Linked DNA regions of Homo sapiens. The protein of the gene in region 4 interacts with the protein of the main gene of each other region in a pairwise test. Each region holds a gene or a part of one and is shown on either strand. Other genes may lie near its edges.

Region 1 (5,145 bases), on a different chromosome or scaffold from region 4:
TAAAGGCCATAAGATGGGGTATGGACCTCTGAAGTGATCAATGGCAAGGGTGATTACTCTTACCTAACATCCTTCCCCACGGTCATAGCAGCAATCACTTTCTTCACAGCCTCCTTTCTCTTTTCTTTCTTTTCATTGTTGAGTTCAGCTTTTAGTTCAAATATTTCTCCTGCAAGAGATGAGAGCAAACTGGTAAGGTTCCAGTACCACAGACTTAGAGCAGAATACTACACTATGTAATAACCAATACCAGGATAGCAGGGCAGCAACTAAAATAAGATTTTAAAATTATAGAATATATAAAATTCAAAGCCCTAGAATATTACCTGACTCACTGACAAGGAAGCCATCAGTAAGTTTTAAAAATCTTTTAAATTATGGCCAGAGAGGAAGGTGCAATCCAGATCTTCAAGAACCACAAGAGTGGGAAAAACCAAATCTCATTATATCTAGCTACAATGGGGAGAGAACAGTATATGAAGGATGATCTTCCATCAGAATGTTAAAGTCTGGAGGAGAACATAAACGTAGGTAGGGAGCAGGCGCGTATTACCTCATTTACCCACGCTCGGCTTTACAGATTAAGAAATGAGGCTCAAAGTTCACAGAGTCAGTGACAAAGTTGGGCTTAGCACTGTGTCTCCTGACTCTTGAATGCAAAGGTTCTCAGCCCTGGCCACACACTAATATTACCTGAGAAATACTAAATATAGCAAAGTACAGGCTCCACTCTGGGCCAAATAAATCATAATGTCAAAGAGAACTCATATTTATACCTTTAAGAGCTCCACCAAGTGACTCTAACGCACACCCAATGTTGAGAATCACTACTTTAATCAGTACTTTAATAAATCAGTGGGCTTTAAGGCCCTTGCTATTCAATCAAACAAGAATAATCTTGAAACCAAGAATGGTACACAATGGAGTCATTTCCAAAGGTACAATCTTGAATGACTGCTTAGGCTCCGCACTGTAAACTGTCAGGGACTGTAACCACTATTTTAAGGCCTGGTCTCCAGGCTCACCTATCTGCAAGAAGCCGGAACCAAAATAAAAAAGAAAGTAACAACCCTAATATTGTTTAAAAGAAACGGAAAAAAAACACTAAGTCCATGAAAAAGAGGTTGACTACTCCCATCTCAACTTTCCATCTACATCCTCCAGCTCATCTACCATACTGCCTCAAAAGACTTTCCTCCACCTTCAAGACTGTTCCTGTCGTTCCTTTCAACCAGATCTCATTTACCAGCATAGAAACAGTGGGGACAGTCTCCGCTTCCGGAGGTCGCTACTGCTGCCTCAGTGGCCCCGGAGCGGGGGCGCCCAGGGGTCCTTCGCCCCCGGCCACGGCCCCCACAACGGGGCTTCGCCGCCACCTGTGTCCGAGCTGGACCGTGCAGGCGCCAGGCTCCTCTCCGAAAGGCGCACGAGACAGCTTTCTTCTCCTGGTTCCACAATGGCCTCCTGGCATAGGGCATCGGGGTTATCTCCTTCATGCAGAGTGACATGGATCACGAAGCAGCATATGGCTTCTTCCTGCTGGGCGGCCTGTGTGCGGTGTGGGGCAGCGCCTGCGGGGCCTGGCAGCGCTGCGGGGGCCCATGCAGCTGACGCTAGGGGGCGCAGCTGCGGGCGCTGTACTCGCCACCAGCCCGCTCTGGGTGTGCGCCGCCGTGGGCTTCTACACCGGGCAGCTGGAGCTGGACGTGAAGCTGGTGCTCGAGGGCGACGGGGCGGCCTCCGCGGAAGGCCCTGATGAGGCAGGCTGGCCGCCACCCGAGTGAGCGACATGGCCGCCGGGCCTGGCAGGCGCGGGATGACGGCGCCCGAGGACTGGGACATTAAAACCTGACCTCCCCTCCTCCAAAAAAAAAAAAAAGAAAGAAATAGTGGGGACAAACACTACGTGATTTGCCTGAAACCATTATGTGGAAAGGATGAAATTAGTAAGACACAGAAGTAGAGCACTTTTTCGTTTCAATATCCATGGCCAATAAGGCAAAAAAATTGTTCCAAAATTTCTATTTAATCAACAGCTACAAAAGTAGCATAGCAAGAAAAGCTGGGCCCTTTAAAGAGTCATTCTTCATAGGACTCTTCACCATGTCCCATCCTGCCAAATCCAGCTCTTAGAGTTCCTCTCATTCACTTCCGGGAACAGTGAAGGACAAACGGCGGGGTTTCAGAAAGTCTGAATTGTGAACAGCAGCAGGTGTTATAGAATCAAAGCAGGATGTAACAGAAATTATTCCAATTCCAAAAGCATAAATTTAAAGAATATGTTTCAGTGGCAGTTCTGGTGGGTGTTGCAGGAAGTACAGGGAACACAATCTATCAATTTTTTTTAAGTATGATGTTTATTAGCAGTGATTCAATCTGCAGTCTCAAACTTTTACAAATGCCTGAATTAAAAAAAGGTCACCAGGACACTTTTCAAGAGTAGGTTTGAAGAATTAGGAGAGTTTTAAAATTATAACTATTTAATTGTAATTGTATCCCTTTATATAATTATAGACATTTTGTTCGTCAAAGCACACAAAATGCTAACAGAAGAAGAAATAAACATATTTCCAAAAGAAAATCAGAAAAAGCTGAGACTGAATGACAAGTGGCTAATGGCTTTTGTGAGGTGTAAGTAATAAAAATAAGGAGGAAAAAGTTGGGCAGGACCAAAGAGGGGTACTAAAAGAGGCAAAGTCATATATTCTACAACTTTATTAAATTCCTATATTTTCTCCCTCCTCCTCCCCCCAATCAAATCTACCAAGCACTGTTAGCAGCTAGCAGTAGTTCTCAATCATGGCTGCACATTAAAATAATCTGGGGAGCTTTCTTTTTAATTTTTTTCTTTTGAGACAGGGTCTCTCTCTGTTGCCTAGGCTGGGGTACAGCGGCACAATCACGACTCACTGCAGCCTCAACCTCCTGCACTCAAGTGATCCTCCCACCTCAGCCTCCCAAATAGCTGGGACTACAGGTGTGCACCACCGTACAGGGCTAATTTTTAAATTTTTTTTCATAGAGATAGGGTCTTACCATGTTGCCCAGGCTGGTCTCAAACTCCTGCACTCAAACAATCCTCCTGTCTCAGCCTCCCAATGTGCTGGGATTACAGGCATAAGCCACCATGCCTGGCCACCTGGAGAACCTTTAAAATCCTCACACCCAGACCATATCCAGGACAACTGAAATCAGGCTGAGGTTGAGACCCAGGCATCAGTATTATTTCAAAGTTCCCTGGCTGAGCAATTCTGATGTGTTGCCAAGACTGAAAGCTACAGACAACAAACTGACATAATTAAGCAACTCACTGCAACAAGAGAAAAAGAAGAATGGTAGTTGGCGCCATGTCTGGAATACTTTGGTAAATGTAAGGACTCCTGAACACAAAAGCACAGAATTCTGATCCTAAGCAACAAATAAAGCAAGCTAAGCTACAGGCACAATAAGCTGAGATGGGCTAAAATGTTTGTCTTTGATGGGAAGACCCTCCACATTTCTAGAAATGATCTATTTTATTTAGGAACAATTTTACAAAAGATGAAGGGTTGGACTTTCCCCAGAAGAATCCTTTGTTCCTAGACCCAAACTCATAGGTAAAAACAAGCATTATATTACTGATAACAAAGATGATGAGAGTAATAAGTGCAAAGTCCCTCAAGTAATTCCGTCTATGACCTAAAAACCATAGATGGCTCTAGAGATTCCGTTTTAAATATACATCTAGACGAAGAACATGGTAGATGTATATGGACGGATATGAAAATAACTCATTTCTATTCATTGTTTTGCAAGATTGCTTTTTCATTAAAGATAAAAAAATTTTAAATCATATGTATTAATATATGCACTCATATGCAGAGAAAAAGACTTGAGGATATACACCAAGTTCCCTTGGGAATAGGAACAGGAAGGGAGAACTTTCATTTTTACCTTTTACATACATATCTGTATTGCTTTAATTGTATTCTTTGTTATAAAATGTTTATTTCCAAGTAAAAATTATTTAATAAAAGGGAAAAAGTATGCTGCTTCTTTTGTCCTCCTCACACTTAACCAATCTCCAATGGATCATCTCAAACAGCAAAGAGGAGTCTCTTTCACTAAACAGAACCTTCAAGTCATAATAATGTGCATCACAGCCCTCTCTTTTAAAACCTACTCTTTAATAACTTGCTTGAATACATTCATCTATAGAAGTAGTAGATGTCCAGTGAGATTGTCAGCTACATGTATGTCTGAAGGAAGAGGTCAGCAGCATTCTGCCTGGGGCAATCTTACACTACAACTTTTGAAAATTTCAAAAGATTTGATTGTATTCTCATACTTACCTTTTTTATTGGTTGTGAAATACTTGGAGTCAGTCATGACTTTGGATCTTTAATGTGCACCTATAGCAAGAGAAAAGAATTCCTTCATTCAGGTTATAGATATCCAACAAGGCATCCAATTAATTTTAAGAACATCCAATTAATTTTAGGAACACTTATATTTAAGAATTTCTAAAAATGAGTATCATCTTCCTTTATCACCACCGTTGATGGTTCAAGAAAAACTAAGAATGTAACTCCTCAAGCTAATGGGGCAAAAATCTAAAGGCCAAATGCAACTGGGTAAAAGTATGAACCTATTATGGCTTTGTGATTTTATCCACAGTAACTCCTCAAAGCTTTCAAGAGCTAAAGCTGGACCTTTTTATAAATATATCTGCAATTACTTTCCATTCAGGAAAATCTGGTAACTTCCTTGCCTCAAGCTGGAATCACTCCAAAACATATATTCTGAAGCAGTGTAAGGTCAAAAGAAAAAACAATTTTGCCGATCTATGACATGAAACTTTCAATAAAAAGAATCTCTTTCAGAAAAAAAAAATTCAAAATTAGTAGGACAATATTCTTTCACAACAAACATCTAGAGAGGCAACCATGACTTATGCATGGAATTTTTTTAATTTTTAGTTTTGTGGGTATTTAGTAGGTGCGTATAGGTACATGAGATATTTTGATAACAGGCAGACAATGCATAATAATTACATTAGTGTAAATGGGATATCCATCACCTCAAGCATTTATCCTTTCTTTGTATTATAAACAATTCAATTACATTCTTTTAGTTATTTTTAAATGTACAGTAAATTATTGTTGA
Region 2 (5,737 bases), on a different chromosome or scaffold from region 4:
CCATGTAATAGAAATCCATAATTGCTAGGGTAAATGAAATAAACAGAACCTAGGGACAAAGAGGCAAGGGAAGTTGCAGCTTTGATGCATATAGGGGTAATATGAAACTGAAAACAGTAGAACCTTGCTACAGATTGATTGTCAGAACATTAACAAAAAGTCAGTAAGAGGGCATGATTTTATGTGTGGGAAATCAGACAAGCTAGAGCCAATTCCTGCAGGGAGGGCTAGAATGGGAAAGCAGCTGACTCAGTCCCAAGTGCTCAGTACTATATCCACAAGGGTGGTCACTGCCACCACTCAGAAGATTACAGAGAAGGAAATGGCAAAGTCTGATTTCACTGGATTCTCCCATACAGTTCTGCCACTTACTAAGCATATCTGATATCTTTCTACTCCAAGTATGAACCCAAATCAGCAAGGGTGGCACTGGTGATTTGTGACAATAGTGACCATGTATTAAGCATAATGCATGCCAAGTGCTTTTCATAAATTGTATTTGATACTCACAATGACTTTCTGAGGTACATACTGGTTACGGACTAAATTGTATTCCCTCACATATGCTGAGGTCCTAACCCCTCAATATGATTATATTTGGAGATAGGGCCTTGAGGAAGGTATTAAAAGTTAAATGAGGTTATAAGGAAGGGCCCTATCGGGTAGGAATGGTATCTGTCCTTATAAGATGAGAGAGCTTGCTCTCTCTCTGTATGCATACAGAAGAAAGGCCATGTGAGGATACAGCAAGAAGATGGCCATCTATAAGCCAGGAAGAGGCCTCACCAGAAACCAAACCTGATGGTATCTTGATCTTGGACTACTAGCCTTTGAAAATGTGAGAAAATAAATTTCTGTTAAAGACAACCAGTCTGTGGTATTCTCTTAAGGCAGCGCAAGTAGACTAAACCAAAGCTATTATCAACCCCATTTTGTAGATGAGGGATCTGAGGTCAAGTGGTTAAGTAATCTGCCCAATACAAGCAGCTTCCATGAGGCGATGCCAGGATCTGAACCTGTCTGTCAAACCTTGAAGTCCATTCTCTGAAGCTGTGCTCCACAGCGATCCCTGAAAGCCTTCCTCATGTACCATGCATCAGAAGTCCAGAAAGCTTCCAGGGTGGTACTCAGGGAGAAGTCTGCACGCAGGGAGAAGGGTCAAAGATGAGCACACTAGGCTCTCAGAAGAACTGACCATTACTGCTATCTGGTAAGGAGTCTTTGGGTCTCCTGTTTTCCCAGCTCTGGGTTTATTGTTTGTTTTTGCTTGACCAGGTGGGATTCGTTCAACATCAAATAAATGCTGTCCCTCACCTGTCTCTCCAATAGAATGGCACTTCTGAGCAGAGTCACATGTGAGCTGTGGCTCCTTAGGCTGGGACTGAAGGGTCAGTGGTGTCTGCTCTGCTAGAGGCACCATCTCTTTACAGAGGACTTCTTGTCTGTGTCTGTGGGCCACCATCTGGGGACAAAAAGACAAGATTTGACTTTTGAAGAAATTAACTGTCTGAAATAAACACTTCCAAGAAAGAAGGAAACAGGAAGAGAGTATTTTATCACCAATGTCAAGGAGACACAAAGCAGAAGTGACAAGGATTCTTGGCATGCCAAAATACACATTTTTCTCTAGCAAATCTCCCTTCCTACCTCATGTTGTGGTTCATCGAGCTCTCTCTCCAGATCCTCCAGCAAAATCACAGCCTCTTCTCCACTCTCTGGACAGTGTTCCCTCACCCAGCCCTGGAGCTCCTTGGGCAGAATGGATAGAAACTGCTCCAGCACCAGCAGATCCAAAATCTGCTCCTTTGTGCTCACATGTGGCCTCAACCACTGGTAGCAAAGTTCCTGGAGTCGAGTAAGAGCCTCCCTTGGTCCAGGGGTCTCTTGGTAGCACAGCTGTCGAAAGTGCCTTCGGAAGATTTCCCTTGCCAGTGGATTACTGCGTTTCAGTCTGGATTCCTGCCATTGAAGGTGACTTTTTGCTTCCACTTTCATTGTCAGAAGTTCTTCCCATGCCTCGGGAACTTGAACACCCAGGGATAAAACCTCCTTTGAGTTTGTATTCATCTTGACCTTGAACAGCTTAAAAGGTACCCTCCAGCTGGAGCTATGCTTCAAGACAAACCTTGGAGGCGCTTGCCTAAGCAGTAAAAATAAATTATTTATATAGAAAAATGATAATAGCTGATGACAGAAACTGATAATACAAGCAATTATCATAGGCCCTAAAGCTCTTCTCTGAAAAGTGATTTGGTGACCAAAGGATGGAAATAATGGAAATATATATATTCATAATGTGCTAAGAGCATAAGCTTTTAAGTTACCCAGATATGGGTTTTCTTTCTTTCTTTTTTTTTTAAATGGGGAATTTCACTCTGTTTCCCAGGCTGGAGTGCAGTGGCATAATCACAGCTCACTGCAACCTCAAACTCCTGGGTTTAAGTGATCCTCCCACCTTGGCTTCCCAAAGTGCTGGGATTACGTCAGCCACCACAGCTGACCCAGACCTAGGTTTTATTCTGATCCTAATATTTACTAGTTGTGTGACCTTGTGCCAAGTTTTTAAATCTTCTTTCAATCTTGATTTCTTTATGTGAAGAAGAAATAGCAATAATGCTTCACAGAGTTCATGGAGGAAAACAGCCCATGAATTAGGGACTGCACCGATCACTCAGAAAGTCTGAATAAAAAGTTTGAACTCACTGTATAAACATCAACTTAGAGAAAGAATAAATGGAAATATTGTTACTGTCGACTAAATGAACGAACCAACATTTACTTTACTATTTACTTCAGTTTTCTTAATCTTCAAAACAACCATTTAAGGTTAGTATTATTTTCACTAAATTTACAGAAAGAAAGGCTTAGGTGGATTCCAAGTCCTGGAGCTTTCCACACCGCCCTGCTGCTACTGAAGAATAACAGTCAACACTGCACAAGTCTACAATATGCTTTCAGATACAAGACTATATTTCATCCTCACAATTACCCACTGAGGTTTTATTATAATAATTATTTCACTAGATAAGAAATGGAAGCCAGGGAAAGTTAAGTAGATTGCCCAAGGTCAACTTCTTTTTGAGGACAATCCTAAGAAGCCAAAGAAGCCCAAGGGAAAAGTTTTCTCCACAGACGCAGGAAGCACCTGAAACCCATGGGGGTGTTCCCAAAATGTGTGTCTCCAAAATGCCAGGAAGCACAGCGCAGCAGCTGAATTCCAGCTTGAAAGGCCCTATGGCAGACATCTGGGGAATCTGAATTGGGAGGTGGAGAGAAGTACAGGGAGACCCAGAATATGCCCTTTAACGGGCTCCTCAGTGATTTGTATGTATTATAAGGTTTGAGAATCAATGAACTAAGGAAAAGGGAATCGGGAACTGCTACATTCTGCGCTTGAAAACCAGTCCATTCAACGCCCCTTAATTTGCTTTCAGAATCTAGAGGTAAGAGGGTATACAGGTTCTCCATCGTGAAGGCTGCCAAAGTCTTAATTGTCCTTAACTTCCTCTCCCGGGTGTTTCTTTCCCTGAGTCCTAAGCCTGTTGTCGTTATTCACCGAGGTGACCCTTCAGCCTCGCAGTCCTCCTACAACCCTTTCTTGTACAATGTCCCCACAGCTGGGGATGACCACTCTGGTCTAGGGGACGCCCGAAGCCGCCCGGCACTGACCGCCGCCCCCTCCTCCGGCTCCCACTTCCCAGCGGCTGAGGTTCACTTTCCACACCCCTTTTCCAGCCCCACCCTCCCTGACCCGCCTCCATTCCCGGTCCCCACAGCCAACTCACGAGACCCGGAACGCGCAAGGAGGGAGAGGGGGTTACCGGCCCGGCGTTGCTAGAAGCGCGGCACGAACAATGGCCGGGCAGGGAACAAAGATGCCGACCTCTCCTCGAAGGCGGACGGAGCAGAGGCACTTCCGGGCCGGTCTAGGATTCCATGTCTCGATGTCCGGCGTTCACCTTGCTTCGGACTCAACCCCCAATTTCCTGGCGTCCAGTTCTTTTTCAGCAGTGAATCACATAATCAGAATGTCATACGTGTGTGGGCCGCACACAGGTTTTAAACGGAAAACGTTGATGAAGCATAGACCGTTAACTATTGAAAATGATGATTTTTAAAAGCATTTTTAAAATTAATACATTATTTATGGTTTAAAAACCCTCAGACAATACCAAAATTAATAAAGTAAAATGTCAAACCCCACCTACCCCTCCTTAGTCCCACTCCCCGAGGCAGCCACTGTCACCGTTAGCCTGGAATTTGTATATCATTGTGATCCTCTCTCACACACACAATGGCATTATTTTATATTTAGCCTTTTCTCCCCCGCTTATTTTAACGTTTTCACTTCATGTATCCTAAAAAGCTTTACTCATCATGTAAGTCTAACTTATTGTATGGGTGCATAACAGTCCATAAAGCAATTTATTTGTCCAGGCCCCTATGTATTCTTTATTTAGGCATCTGCCTGCGTGCTTGCCTTCTTTCCTCCCTCCCTTCCTCTTTTCCTACCTTCCTCCCTCCCTTCCTGCCTTTCTCCCATCCTCCTTTCCTTTTCTTTCTTTCTTGTTTTTGTTTTTTGTTGTTTTTTTTTTTTGCTGTAAAAGTTTTCTGGAGTTTTAGTAATAATAATACAAAATCAAACCAAAACCAATTAAATAAATTTGTCACCCAGGCTGGAGTGCAGTGGCACCATCATAGCTCACTGCAGACTGCAACTCCTGGCTCAAGCAATCCTGCCTCAGCCTCCTGAGTAGCTGGGACTACAGTCACATACCACCATGCCCAGCATTTTTTTTGGGGGAGGGGGGTAGAGACCAGGGTCTCGCTTTGTTGGCCAGGCTGGTCTCTAACTCCTGACCTCAAGTGATCCTCCCACCTCCGCCTGGCAAAGTGCTGGTACAGGCATGAGCCACCATGCCCAGCCTTAAATAAATTTTATTGGTACAAAAGAGCGTAATTGTAGGTACTGTTAGTCATTCATCAGTTTTACTATGCCAACCAGAATGATGGTGTCACGTAGATTAAACTATATTCTGTTTGTTTTAACAGAATCTTATCATTTATTTTATTAAAGCAGTAAGAAAGTATCTTGTGTGTTAATGGAGGCTCCATGATCTGTTTTAACTCCAAAACGGTAGTAGCTCGGAAAATTTCTTTATTATTTTCCTCAACCTAGCCTTCTGAGGGCATTAAATAAACCCAAGCTTTATGCTTTACTTCTTTTTCTTTCAAATATCCAATAAGTATATAATCAATAAGAGCACTAACATGCAGAAAATTTGCTCAAAAATCCTCATCACTTTTTCCACCATACCATGTTCACTTGCAAATCCCTCATTACAAACTTTCCTAACAAACTATGAAATGAGAGTAAATGCTCAATTTCTCTTGGACTTGAATAGACTGTTTAAATATGTTATTCTTTTCCATTTTGTATGACCATCTGTGACAAGTAAATGCAATTTAATATTTGTATGAAACTTCTTAAATGTCTCACTGGCAGTTGGTTAGGGTCTCTCACTGGTTTATATGTGCTTGCTAAGTGGGTCAACTATAGGGCTCAGGCAGGCTCCAGCCCAGAGTCAAGTGGGCAGCACGTTGGACTTCACAATGGTTAGCCCTGAGAGAGACTGGCTTTCATTTGTCTGTTTCCGGGAAGATTCCACTATAGCAGTACTTTGATGAGTATCCTGGGACAGAAGGGATTATTTTTAACATATAACTGGGAATCCGT
Region 3 (5,145 bases), on a different chromosome or scaffold from region 4:
GTCCAAATCGGCCTCGTCCAAAGGAGAGGGCTTTGATGTCATGAAGTCGGGTGATGCCCGTGTGGCGCTGATTGGATTTCCCTCTGTGGGTAAGGTCAGTGATGGTCAGTGTGGGCCTCGGGGAGGAAAGCAAGAAGTCATCTTTCAAACAGGTGACCATCCAGGCTCCCCTCGCTGCCTTTCTGCTTAGCTCCAGGGACACAGAAGACCTGGCCTCCCCCAGGGTCAGATCCCAGCCCTTTATCATCCTAACATGGAGGACGCTCTTTCCTCTTGCCAGCAGATGGAGCCCTACTTGGTCTTCCGACTCAGTCATCACACACAAATACTTCTCGAGTGTGTATCTCTAGCGGTGTCATGTGCTGGGCACTGTGCCAGGGACTAGAGACATAGCATGAATGAGACAGAGCTCTGTCCCTGCCCACATAGATCTCCCATTCTTGAAGAGAAAGGACAGTAAATAAGTAATAAGGTGCATCCAGTGGTGAGGAGTGGGGGCTGGTGAGTGACAGGGTGAAGGTCTGCTAGTTACGACAGGTCCCGGCAGGTTTCTCTGGTGAGTGAGTATTTGGGCAGGGGCCTGAAGGAAGTGAGTGAGCTTGCAGAGTCCTGGGTGAGAACCTTCCAGACAGAGGGAACAGTGAGCACAGGCCCTTAGGCAGGTGCTCGCTTGGTGTGTCCAGGGAGGCCCAGGTGGCTCTCTGAGGAGCACAAGGAGGGCAGAAGACAGAGAGGATAGCGGCATATGGGCGGCCGAAAGGACCCTGGCTTGGATTGAAGAATGAAACTGCAGAGTTTTTAGAAGGTTTCTTCGGCCGGGCGCGGTGGCTCACACCTGTAAACCCAGCACTTTGGGAGGCCAAGGTGGGTGGATCACCTGAGGTTGGGAGTTCAAGACCAGCCTGACCAACATGGAGAAACCCTGTCTCTACTAAAAATACAAAATTAGCCAGGGGTGGTGGCGCATGCCTGTAATCTCAGTTACTCGGGAGGCTGAGGCAGGAGAATCGCTTGAACCTGGGAAGCAGAGGTTGCGGTGAGCCGAGATTGCACCATTGCACTCTAGCCTGGGCAACAAGAGCAAAACTCCATCTCAAAAAAAAAAAAAAAAAAAAAAAAAAAAAGAAGGTTTCTTCTGGAAGTTGCTCTGTTTAGCGTATAATCTATATTGGTTTACTTTTTTTTTTGAGATGGAGTCTTGCTCGGCTCACTGCAACCTCTGTCTCCTGGGTTCAAGCAGTTATCAATCAGCCTCCCGAGTAGCTGGGATTACAGGCATCCGCCACCACCCCTGGCTAATTTTTGCATTTTTAGTAGAGGTGGGGTTTCACCACGTTCGCCAGGCTGGTCTCGAACTTCTGACCTCAGGTGATCCGCCCACCTTGGCCTCCCAAAGTGCTGGGATTACAGGTATGAGCCACCGTTCCCGGCGTGATTTACTTTTATGTGAGGAATAAAATAAACATCATTGCAGGGTTTTGAGCAGAAAAGAGATGTCTGATCGGCTCTTTTTTTTTTTTTTTTTTTTTTTGGAGGTATAGTTTCACTCTTGTTGCCCAAGCTGGAGTACAATGGCACGATCTCAGCTCACTACAACCTCCGCCTCCCAGGTTCAAGCAATTCTCCTGCCTCAGTCTCCCAAGTAGCTGGGATTACAGGCATGCACCACCCCGCCCGGCTAATTTTTTGTATCCTTTTTTAGTAGAGACAGGGTTTCACCATGTTGGCAAGGCTGGTTTTGAACTCCTGACCTCAGGTGATCCACCCGCCCTTGGCCTCCCAAAGTGCTGGGATTACAGGCGTGAGCCACCGCGCCCGGCCTAAAGTAAACTTTTTATTTTAGAATAGTCTTAGATTTACAGAAAAATTGCAAAGGTAATACAGAGTTCCCATATACCCCACACCCATTTTCCCTGGCAGTTAACATTTTACACCAATGAATATTGATCTGTTCTTGCCTCAAGTCTGGCTTTATGCAGATTTCCTTAGCTCCTCCCCACTGTCCTTTTTCTGTCCTGAGATCCCACATCACAGTTCAGTTGTTATGTCTCCTTAGGCTCTTCTAGACAGTTCCTTAGACTTGCCTTGATTTGATAACCTTGACGGTTTTAAGGAGTACCATTCCCATATTTTGTAGAAAGTCCTTCAGTTGGGGTGTGTCCAATGTTTTTCTCGTGGTTAATCTGGGGTTATAGTTAGCAAGGAAGGCCACAGAGGTAAAGTGCCATTTTTATCACATCGCATGAAGGCCACATACTGTCAACATGACTTACCCCTGCTGATGTTGATCTTGACCACCTGGCTGAGGTGTGTCAGGTTTCTCCACCGTGGAGACGCTCTCTTCTCCCCTTGCCATGCCGCTTTGGGGAGGGAGGTGACTGTGTGCAGTCCAATTCCATCGCCTCCTTGAGGGGAGCATCTACAGAAACTGTTTGGAATTCTTCTGCATGGGAGATTTGTCTCTCTTCTCCCATTCATTTGTTTTATTCAATCATTTATTGATATCCGTATGGATTCGTGGGGGGTTATTTTGTGCTTTGGGGTCTAAACCCATACCATGTTCTTTTGCTGCTCAAATCTTTTTAGCTTTGGAGCTATTTTAGTTGGCTTCTTTGATGTACTTCCACCATTGTGTTTTTCCAGCACTTCCTCACTTTCTGACACTGCAAGATGCCTCAGGCTCATTTTGTATATTCCCTGCCCTGGCCTAGAATCTGCCATTTCTCTAAGGAGCCCTGGTTCCTTTGATTGGAGAATAGCATTAGAAACTACCATCTGGGCGCTGACTTACTTTTTTACAGAATCACTCTGGCTGTTGTGTAGATAGCAGGTTATAGCAGGGCAAAGTGAAGTGGGACAGTGGAGAGGTTGCTAGAATATAGGCCAAGTGAGCAACAACCAAAGCTCTGGACAGGTGCTGGGGAGCAGCTTCTAACTCAGTTCAGCTGAACAATTTGAGCCCACACCCAGTTTCCATTGCTCTGGGCCAGGCACAGGGGATGGTGGTTAACAGCTACCTTTTCTTGAGTGCTTGCTGCAGGCTGGGCAGTGTTTAGTTTTATTTGTTGTACTGTCTGCCTATATGATTGGTATATGTATCAGAGAGAGAGAGATTGATAGAGAAGCCGCTCTAGTTACCAAGAGCCGTGACCCTTGAAGTCTGGGCCCATGGCAGATCCCACCTGCCTTATTGGGAGTATAGGCTCTCCCACCGTGGGAGGGCCCAGGTCTTACAGGGGCCAGACAGAATCAGGGAGTGGCCCCGAGGTTGGTTGCTGGCTGTCTCAACAGCCATTGCTCTTGGGGCCACCGTGTCTATCCCTATACCTGTCCACTCCACCAGGTTTTTCTCATTTCTTGAGTTTCCAGGAGATCCCCAAGGCTGAGGGTTTCTGGATTTGGGAACTCGATGTATTTCCATCACATGCCACATTCTGGACTTGAGAGGTCTAAGGGTGCCTTGGGGAGGGTGCCCCCAGTCTTCCTGCCAGTCAGCCAGGAGGCAGGGTCTGGATAGCTGGCCCTGCAACTCAGAGTCTCAGGCTTCTCGTTCCTGGGGCCCTGCTGATTAGGATGGGGCAGGAGGCATGGGGCTGGGTTTCTTCCCTCCCTGGGTCTGCCCACTGCTTGGCTGGCCTCAGCCACAGCATCTATCACTGATGTTACAGTGTTTGGAGTGAGGCACATCCCGGGCCTTATCTTTTTAATCCCTGTGCAGTCCTGTGAGGTAGGGACCGGGTTCATGCCCATTCTACATGTAAAGACCCTGAACTGAGAGTATGGAGTTTCCTGCCCAATCCCAGGACACCCCGGCAGAGGCAGGATTCAAAGCCAGGTTTCTCCAACTCCCAGCCACAGTGAACGGTGGTCTGAGTGGTCACATCCACATCTTCCCAGTTCCCCACTCCCTCCCTGCGACACCTCTCCTGTCAGCTGTCTCTGCCTCAGCCCAGGAGGTTGACATCTCCTTGCACACCTCCTTACACCCTCCCTGGGTGCACAGCATGTCTGGGTACTGGTTCCACGAGTGCCGTGGGACTGCCACCTGCTTAAAGTTCTCTGGGGCCAAGAGGGCCTGGAGGATTGTGTGGGGTTAGGAGAGGCTCCTGATGTATATGGGGAACCCCATCAGAATCCAGATCCCTGCCTCTACCTGAGACAGTCCTGAGGCCTCCAAGGAACAGATGGGCCTCTGGTGTCTGACCCATCCAGGACAGGGCCAGAGGTGAGCCCTCTGGCTGGGAGGTCTCTTCACAGCCACCTAGGTCACCAAGCCGAGGGTGAGAGGGTCTCCTCCTGCTGCCTGCACCTGCAGGCCCCCAGCCCCTGGGGCCTCTCCCAGAAGGCCAGGGACAAGGCTCCTCAGTGCAATGATCTCCTTTTCTCCTAGTCCACATTCTTGAGTCTGATGACCTCCACGGCCAGCGAGGCAGCGTCCTATGAGTTCACCACTCTGACGTGTATTCCTGGGGTCATTGAAGTAAGTGGGTGTGCTGGGCCCAGAAGGAGAAGGGGCGCATGCTTGTGTTTGGACTTGTGCCTGTGCCCACCCTGTGTGTGAGTCTGGGTGGATGTCCCCATGTCAGGACAGGCTCTGGACTGAGCTGCTTTGCCCTCCAGCACTGACACTTCTGGGGATCCTAGCTGCTGGACCCCAGAGATGCCTGGTGGGGCCTGGAACTAGGAGGTCAGGCCAGCATGTGGCTACTTTGCCTGGCGCCCCCTGTGCTCTCCTCCCCAACACCACCACAGCTCTGGTCACTAATTGCTGCTTGGCTGGATCCTTCTGCCTCCCCATGAAGCTTCACTGCCTTGGGCTGTGTTTGCTTTGGGCAGCTGAGTGGTATGGCCTTAAGTTCCCATGGTGAAACAATTTATTTGTAAAGTGCTGGTATCATCAGTGATGAGTGTTGTGGGATTGGAAGATCTTGAGCCCTCCCTAGGCGGCTACTCAGCTCATAGGCTGTGGTCTGCACTGGGCTGGGGTGGTGACAAGGCTCAGACTTGGCCACAGGTTGGCATCTGGGTTTCCCTCAGCCCCTGAGCCCCGGGGCCATTCCAGATGTCCCAGATCCAGACAGGACCTTTCCAGTGGAGGCCCAGCCTTGCCTTACCTTTCTTCTCTTCTGCATCCTAGTACAAAGG
Region 4 (5,145 bases):
AGCCCAGGGGGACGCTGTTCTTCCCTCCAAGCTGCCTGCCCTGGAGGAACGAATTTGGGGGGGGGGTGCTGGGTGAGGCTGACGGTGAGTTGCACACAGCGGGCCTCACGTGGGAGCCGGCTCCAACCCCAACACCCCCCATGGGTGAGAGAAACCTGGACTGGCAGCTCCCCCCAACCCCAGACCTGACTCCCAGCCCCAGGGCCAGCCTTGCCCCCAGCTGTTTCGCCTCTGGGTTCCTATCCAGGACACAGGACACTCAAGCGGTCATCTCACGGCCCAAGGCTACTGACCAGGGGCACAGACTCTTGGAGCAGCTGGGGTTGAGCACGTTGCGGGGAGCGCAGGGATCCCATGCTGCCTGGAAACCAGGAGTTTCGTGTGCTTTCTGGACAACCTGGGGGCAGCCTCTCACGGAAAGAGGTATGACACCTGCCCCACCTGGCTTCCTAGGGGAGGGTCCCAGCGACCTGAGGGCCACCACTCCCGGCTGTACCCCCACCCTACTCCACCCCTGGAGAGGAACAGGGGAGCAGTGACCTTGCTGGAAACCCTCAGGAAACACCAGGTCAGCAGAGAGGTGGATGTTGCCTCCACTGGGACCAGCCTGGTGGCCGCCCACTCACCGTACTGGACTTGAGCTCATCCCCATTCTCCTCGTCGGACTCTAGAGCGACAGGCAAGGATTTCTGGGGCGGGGAGAAGGTCAAGTCCCAACGCAGCAACCGGGGCTCGGCCCCGCCCAGCCGCAGGCTCGCCAGTTTCTGCACGGCGGGCTCCGCGGAGGAGGCCGGCCTGAAGTTCTCCTTGTTCTGGGCCTTGGACCGCAGTCTCTGCACCCCGAAGCCCCGGTCCTCGGGGCGGTGGTCGTCCCCCAAGCCCCGGCAGGCGCCGCCCTTGCTGTAGCGTCTTTTCTGGGGATGCGTCTCCATCCTCAGCAAGGGTTTCATCTCCATCCGGTAGTTGCTCAGCTTCTCCTCCTGCAGCTCCAGCAGCCTGGAGCCTCCGGGGCTGTGGTTGCTGGCCCGGTGGTGGGAAGTCCACGTGAACACGGGGGGTGACTCCGTCCGCCGCTCCCGCGGCTTGGGGTTCCCGGGCTGCTTGCGGCCCGAACCTCGGGTGCGGAAGTCATCCACGAGCAGGCCGCCGCGCAGGGCACCGCTGCGGACACCCCTGGAGCCCCCGGCCTGCTCCTCGCCCCAGCTGCTGCGGGCGCAGTCCCCGGCCCGGCCCTCCAGGAGCATCTGGATGTCCCCGCCCCGCTCCTCGTCCACCGACACCTGCCTCGAGAAGTGGGCGACCTTGTTCCTGGCGGCGGGCGCGGGCGGCGGGGTGGCCGCGGGGCTGGTGGGGAAGCTCTGCAGGGGGCTGTCGTCGGGGGTCAGGTCGGAGGGAGTGGTGCCCTTGCGGTACAGCTCGGGGCTCTCCTGCTGCAGGGGTGTCCCGGTGGACAGCACCTCGATGTCGTCACAGGAGGTCTGACGCTTCGGCCTCTGGTACTCCAGCCCTGTATGGGGACACAAGACGACGCCAGACGGCGTTACCCAGCACATTCCACAGCGAGGCCGCGGTCCCCGGGCCAGGGCGCCAGAGGGAACCTCAGGGCAGCAGAGGCGCTTCCCACTCACCGAAAGGCTGCAGGCAAGGGAGGGGAGTGGGGACCGTGGCTCCCAAAGCCCTCTGTGGGACCCCCGTGGTCCCCACCCCACAGACACTTGGAGGGAGACTGGCTAGGCCCAGGCACCACAGGAAGGGCGGACAGCAGCTCCCAGGCTACAAGGGAGACCCAAGGCTCGGAAAGTGCGTGAGGACGCTGGGGTGTGGACTCAGGTCCCACCAACCCTGACTCGCCTGTCCTGAGGGTAAGAGGAAGCCCCTCACCCTAGCTGACCACCTGTCTGGGGAGGCCGAGCTGTCACAGCAAGGCCGCCAACACCCCTACCCGCCTGGGACTGTGTCTCAGGGTGCTGGGACAGTCTTGCTGAGAAACAGCCAGTGCCGGGGCCAGCGTGAGAGCCCAGGAGCCGACTTCCCTCCCCACCTTTCGAGGCTGCTGGGGCTTCAAGTCCTAGGGCGGGGCTCCCCGGAAGGGGAGGTCACCACAGGACCCAGGGGCCAGCTCTGCAGCCAGCAGAGTCCCTGTCGTCTGCCGGTGGCTCAGTCCCCATCAGCCCCCACCCGGAGGCCTGGATAGGGAGGGGCAGCATTGTAGGACTAGCCCCGAGACTTCTCCGGAGCTCCGTGAGCCCCCAGCAGGAGGTGAGAACCAAGAACATTGACTGGGATCTCATTTCCTGCCAACGCAGGGACACGGGAGCCATGCCCGACTTTATTCCATTAGGAGAAACCCAAGAACGCGGCGCTTCTTACCCTCCGGGGAACAGTTACACGTTCATCTCAAGTAGCGTCCTAGGCTCAGCACAGAACAGTGGGACCCCCGCCCCCAGCATCCCCGTCCTGCCCGAGCCAAAATGGTGCAGAGCTCTGTGGGAATTTGGGGAGTCTTCCCTCTGAGGACGGAGGTCTCAGAGCTCTACCCGGGGCGGCCACCTCATGAGACCAGCTCGGACACCAAGAGCCACTGCCCATCTTAGAGTCTCTCACGCTCGGACATTCTCCTGGCCTGTACCCCAGTCTGACCTTTTGGCAGGAGAAGGTCTGGGAGACGCCTGTACCCCAGTCTGACCTTTTGGCAGGAGAAGGTCTGGGAGACATGGCTACCCTCGGTGTGGCACCAGATAGTCCCTCCGTTTGTAAAGAGACGTTAGCAAGCAGATTCGGGGCACGCTGCGACGCCACCAGGCTGGGCTGCTGTGTCCTCCTCCTTGCTGGTCTAAGAGGCAGTGCTGAGCAGAGCGAGGCCATGGCCCTGGCCTGGGGCTTGGGGCACAGCTGGGTAGCTCTGGGTGGGTGGCCAGCCCTCCCAAGTCTGAGTTCCTGTCACACGGGGGTGTGGGTGGGCCACTCTGAGGTCTCAATGACTGCTTCTCTGTGGTCACTCCCCAGAAACAGGGCTGGGCTGGTTGGGTGTCCCCCGAGCAGAGCAGGGAATGGGCCAGAGAAGGTCTGTGTAGAACTGTGCTGACATCCACGTACCCACCTGACGCCCAGCCCCACCACCTCTCTCCCCGTGAGGGTCCTGTGTGGAGGGCAGCCCTGGCCCCATCAGAGGCCCCCAATCATGCCCACGGATCACCCACATCGTACCTCCTCCTTGGCCAGGATGGGACTTCCAAGGGGCTGGCATTCCTGTGCCTTAGACGCTATGGACCTAGCAGGCTGGGATCAAGGCCCCCCCCATCCCCCGATGGCGCCCCGGCCTTTCCCACCAGGTCGTCCACCCACTGCTGCCGAGATCAGGCCTGGCTGGCCCAGGAGACCCCACGCTAGAGGGGCCCCGACTCCCAGCACCACCAGCAGGAGGGCACCCTCAGCTAGAATGAGCTGCTGAGCAGGTAACGTTCCTAGAAGCCTCGTGGTGAGGATGCAGGGCGGGTCCTCGTGAAGCCCCTGCAGCTTCTTCCTGTGCCTTCAAGCCACCTGCGTCCTGCAGCCTCCGACGCTCAGTCCTCCTGCCTCTGGGGCGGGGGCGGATGGCACCGGAAGTGGCCTGGGCACTGGACACCGCATGGCCAGGCTCCTTCATGGTCCTGCCTTCACGTGGCCTTGGGCAGAACCCTGACGGTCAGAGTTCTCGGGCTGGGAGGCTGCCAGGGACCTCCCAGACAGGCAGCAAGAGGCTGGCGCCAGCCACTCTCTGCAGCCGAAGCGCTGGATGGTTTGCTTCTCTAGAAGCCGGCATGGCCCAGGCTTCAGAGCCTCGTTTTAAATCCTGATTCCACCACATCCTGCCTGAGCGCTCTGGCAACCCTGTTCCCCTCTTGGAGGCTCTGTTCTGTCATCTGTCATTGGTGACCTCAGCTCCTGGCTGTGAGGACGACTGAGGAAGGACCTGGACAGCTTCCCCCAGCCCCACCCCTCCCCAGCAGCCGAGAAGGCCCCGGGGTGCCTGGTCTGGGAACACTGATCCTGAATGCATCCAAGGCGGAAACAAGAAATGCTTGGATCAAATCTCATGCCAGTCCCAGCGCTTGTAAAAAACACACGGTCCCAACGCCCCCTCCAGGGAAGATGCTGCTCAGAGAAGGCTCCGGGGCGCCACCCAAAGAGGTGGCAGATCGGACCGAGGTGCTCAGAGTGAGCCAGGCTCCAAGGTGCAGCAGCAGGAGGTGAGGCCAACTTGGCCAGACCCTCGAGGACTGGACTCCCACCAGTGAGGCAGCAGCGGCCCCGTCTCTCCATCACAGCGGCCCCCACAGGGGCCCGCATCTGTATCATGAAGACAAGAACTGTCGGAGGAGGCAGCTTCAGGACTTAAAAGGTCAGCCCAAGGCCCCTCCTGCAGGGACCTGAGCCCTCCAGGAAGCATCTCCTCTGAATCCAGGACTGAGCCCTCCAGGAAGCATCTCTGACTCCAGGACTGAGCCCTCTGGGAAGCATCTCCTCTGAATCCAGGACTGAGCCCTCCAGGAAGTATCTCCAAGTCCAGGACTGAGCCCTCCAGGAAGCATCTCTGACTCCAGGACTGAGCCCTCGAGGAAGCATCTCTGACTCCAGGACTGAGCCCTCCGGGAAACATCTCTGACTCCAGGATTGAGCCCTCCAGGAAGCATCTCTGACTCCAGGACTGAGCCCTCTGGGAAGCATCTCCTCTGAATCCAGAACTGAGCCCTCCAGGAAGCATCTCTGACTCCAGGACTGAGCCCTCTGGGAAGCATCTCCTCTGAATCCAGAACTGAGCCCTCCAGGAAGTATCTCTGACTCCAGGACTGAGCCCTCCAGGAAGCATCTCCTCTGACTCCAGGACTGAGCCCTCCAGGAAGCATCTCCGACTCCAGAGTCTTAACTGGAATTCTCAGGGTGGGGGAGCCTGCACCCATTTCTTGGGACTGGAGCAGTAAAGCACCACGCGGGGGTGGGGGTAGAAACACCCAAAAGGCAAACTCGTGTTTCTGGAAGTTAGAAGCCGTGATCCAGGTGTCGGGAGTGCTGCTTCCTTCCAGGGTCTCCGCTCCAGCCACCCTCCAGCCACGGAGTCTCCAGTGATCTCTGACATCACTCCATCCGCCCCTGTCTCCTCCTCTT

What was found. Proteins that work in one complex are often made in the same cells at the same time.
Region 1: the proteins of JPH3 (region 4) and AP2B1 interact in binary tests that used the Homo sapiens proteins (3 or more experiments, as listed by UniProt).
Region 2: the proteins of JPH3 (region 4) and ZSCAN9 interact in binary tests that used the Homo sapiens proteins (3 or more experiments, as listed by UniProt).
Region 3: the proteins of JPH3 (region 4) and DRG2 interact in binary tests that used the Homo sapiens proteins (3 or more experiments, as listed by UniProt).

The regions. Positions count from the first base shown.
Region 1 is NC_000017.11:35,593,254-35,598,398, reverse strand, and holds part of AP2B1 (AP-2 complex subunit beta), read right to left. Parts: intron 4,392-5,145; 5' UTR 4,369-4,391; coding exon 4,332-4,368; intron 1,867-4,331; exon of another isoform or gene 1,269-1,866; intron 170-1,268; coding exon 64-169; intron 1-63. UniProt on the Homo sapiens protein: Component of the adaptor protein complex 2 (AP-2). Adaptor protein complexes function in protein transport via transport vesicles in different membrane traffic pathways.
Region 2 is NC_000006.12:28,223,415-28,229,151, reverse strand, and holds the start of ZSCAN9 (zinc finger and SCAN domain-containing protein 9), read right to left. Parts: upstream 3,878-5,737; 5' UTR 3,786-3,877; exon of another isoform or gene 3,469-3,785; coding exon of another isoform or gene 3,146-3,468; exon of another isoform or gene 2,221-3,145; coding exon of another isoform or gene 2,068-2,220; coding exon 1,648-2,067; intron 1,463-1,647; coding exon 1,315-1,462; coding exon of another isoform or gene 1,097-1,314; exon of another isoform or gene 1-1,096. UniProt on the Homo sapiens protein: May be involved in transcriptional regulation.
Region 3 is NC_000017.11:18,093,880-18,099,024, forward strand, and holds part of DRG2 (developmentally-regulated GTP-binding protein 2), read left to right. Parts: coding exon 1-94; intron 95-4,390; coding exon 4,391-4,480; intron 4,481-5,137; coding exon 5,138-5,145. UniProt on the Homo sapiens protein: Catalyzes the conversion of GTP to GDP through hydrolysis of the gamma-phosphate bond in GTP. When hydroxylated at C-3 of 'Lys-21' by JMJD7, may bind to RNA and play a role in translation.
Region 4 is NC_000016.10:87,686,008-87,691,152, reverse strand, and holds part of JPH3 (junctophilin-3), read right to left. Parts: intron 1,508-5,145; coding exon 627-1,507; intron 1-626. UniProt on the Homo sapiens protein: Junctophilins contribute to the formation of junctional membrane complexes (JMCs) which link the plasma membrane with the endoplasmic or sarcoplasmic reticulum in excitable cells.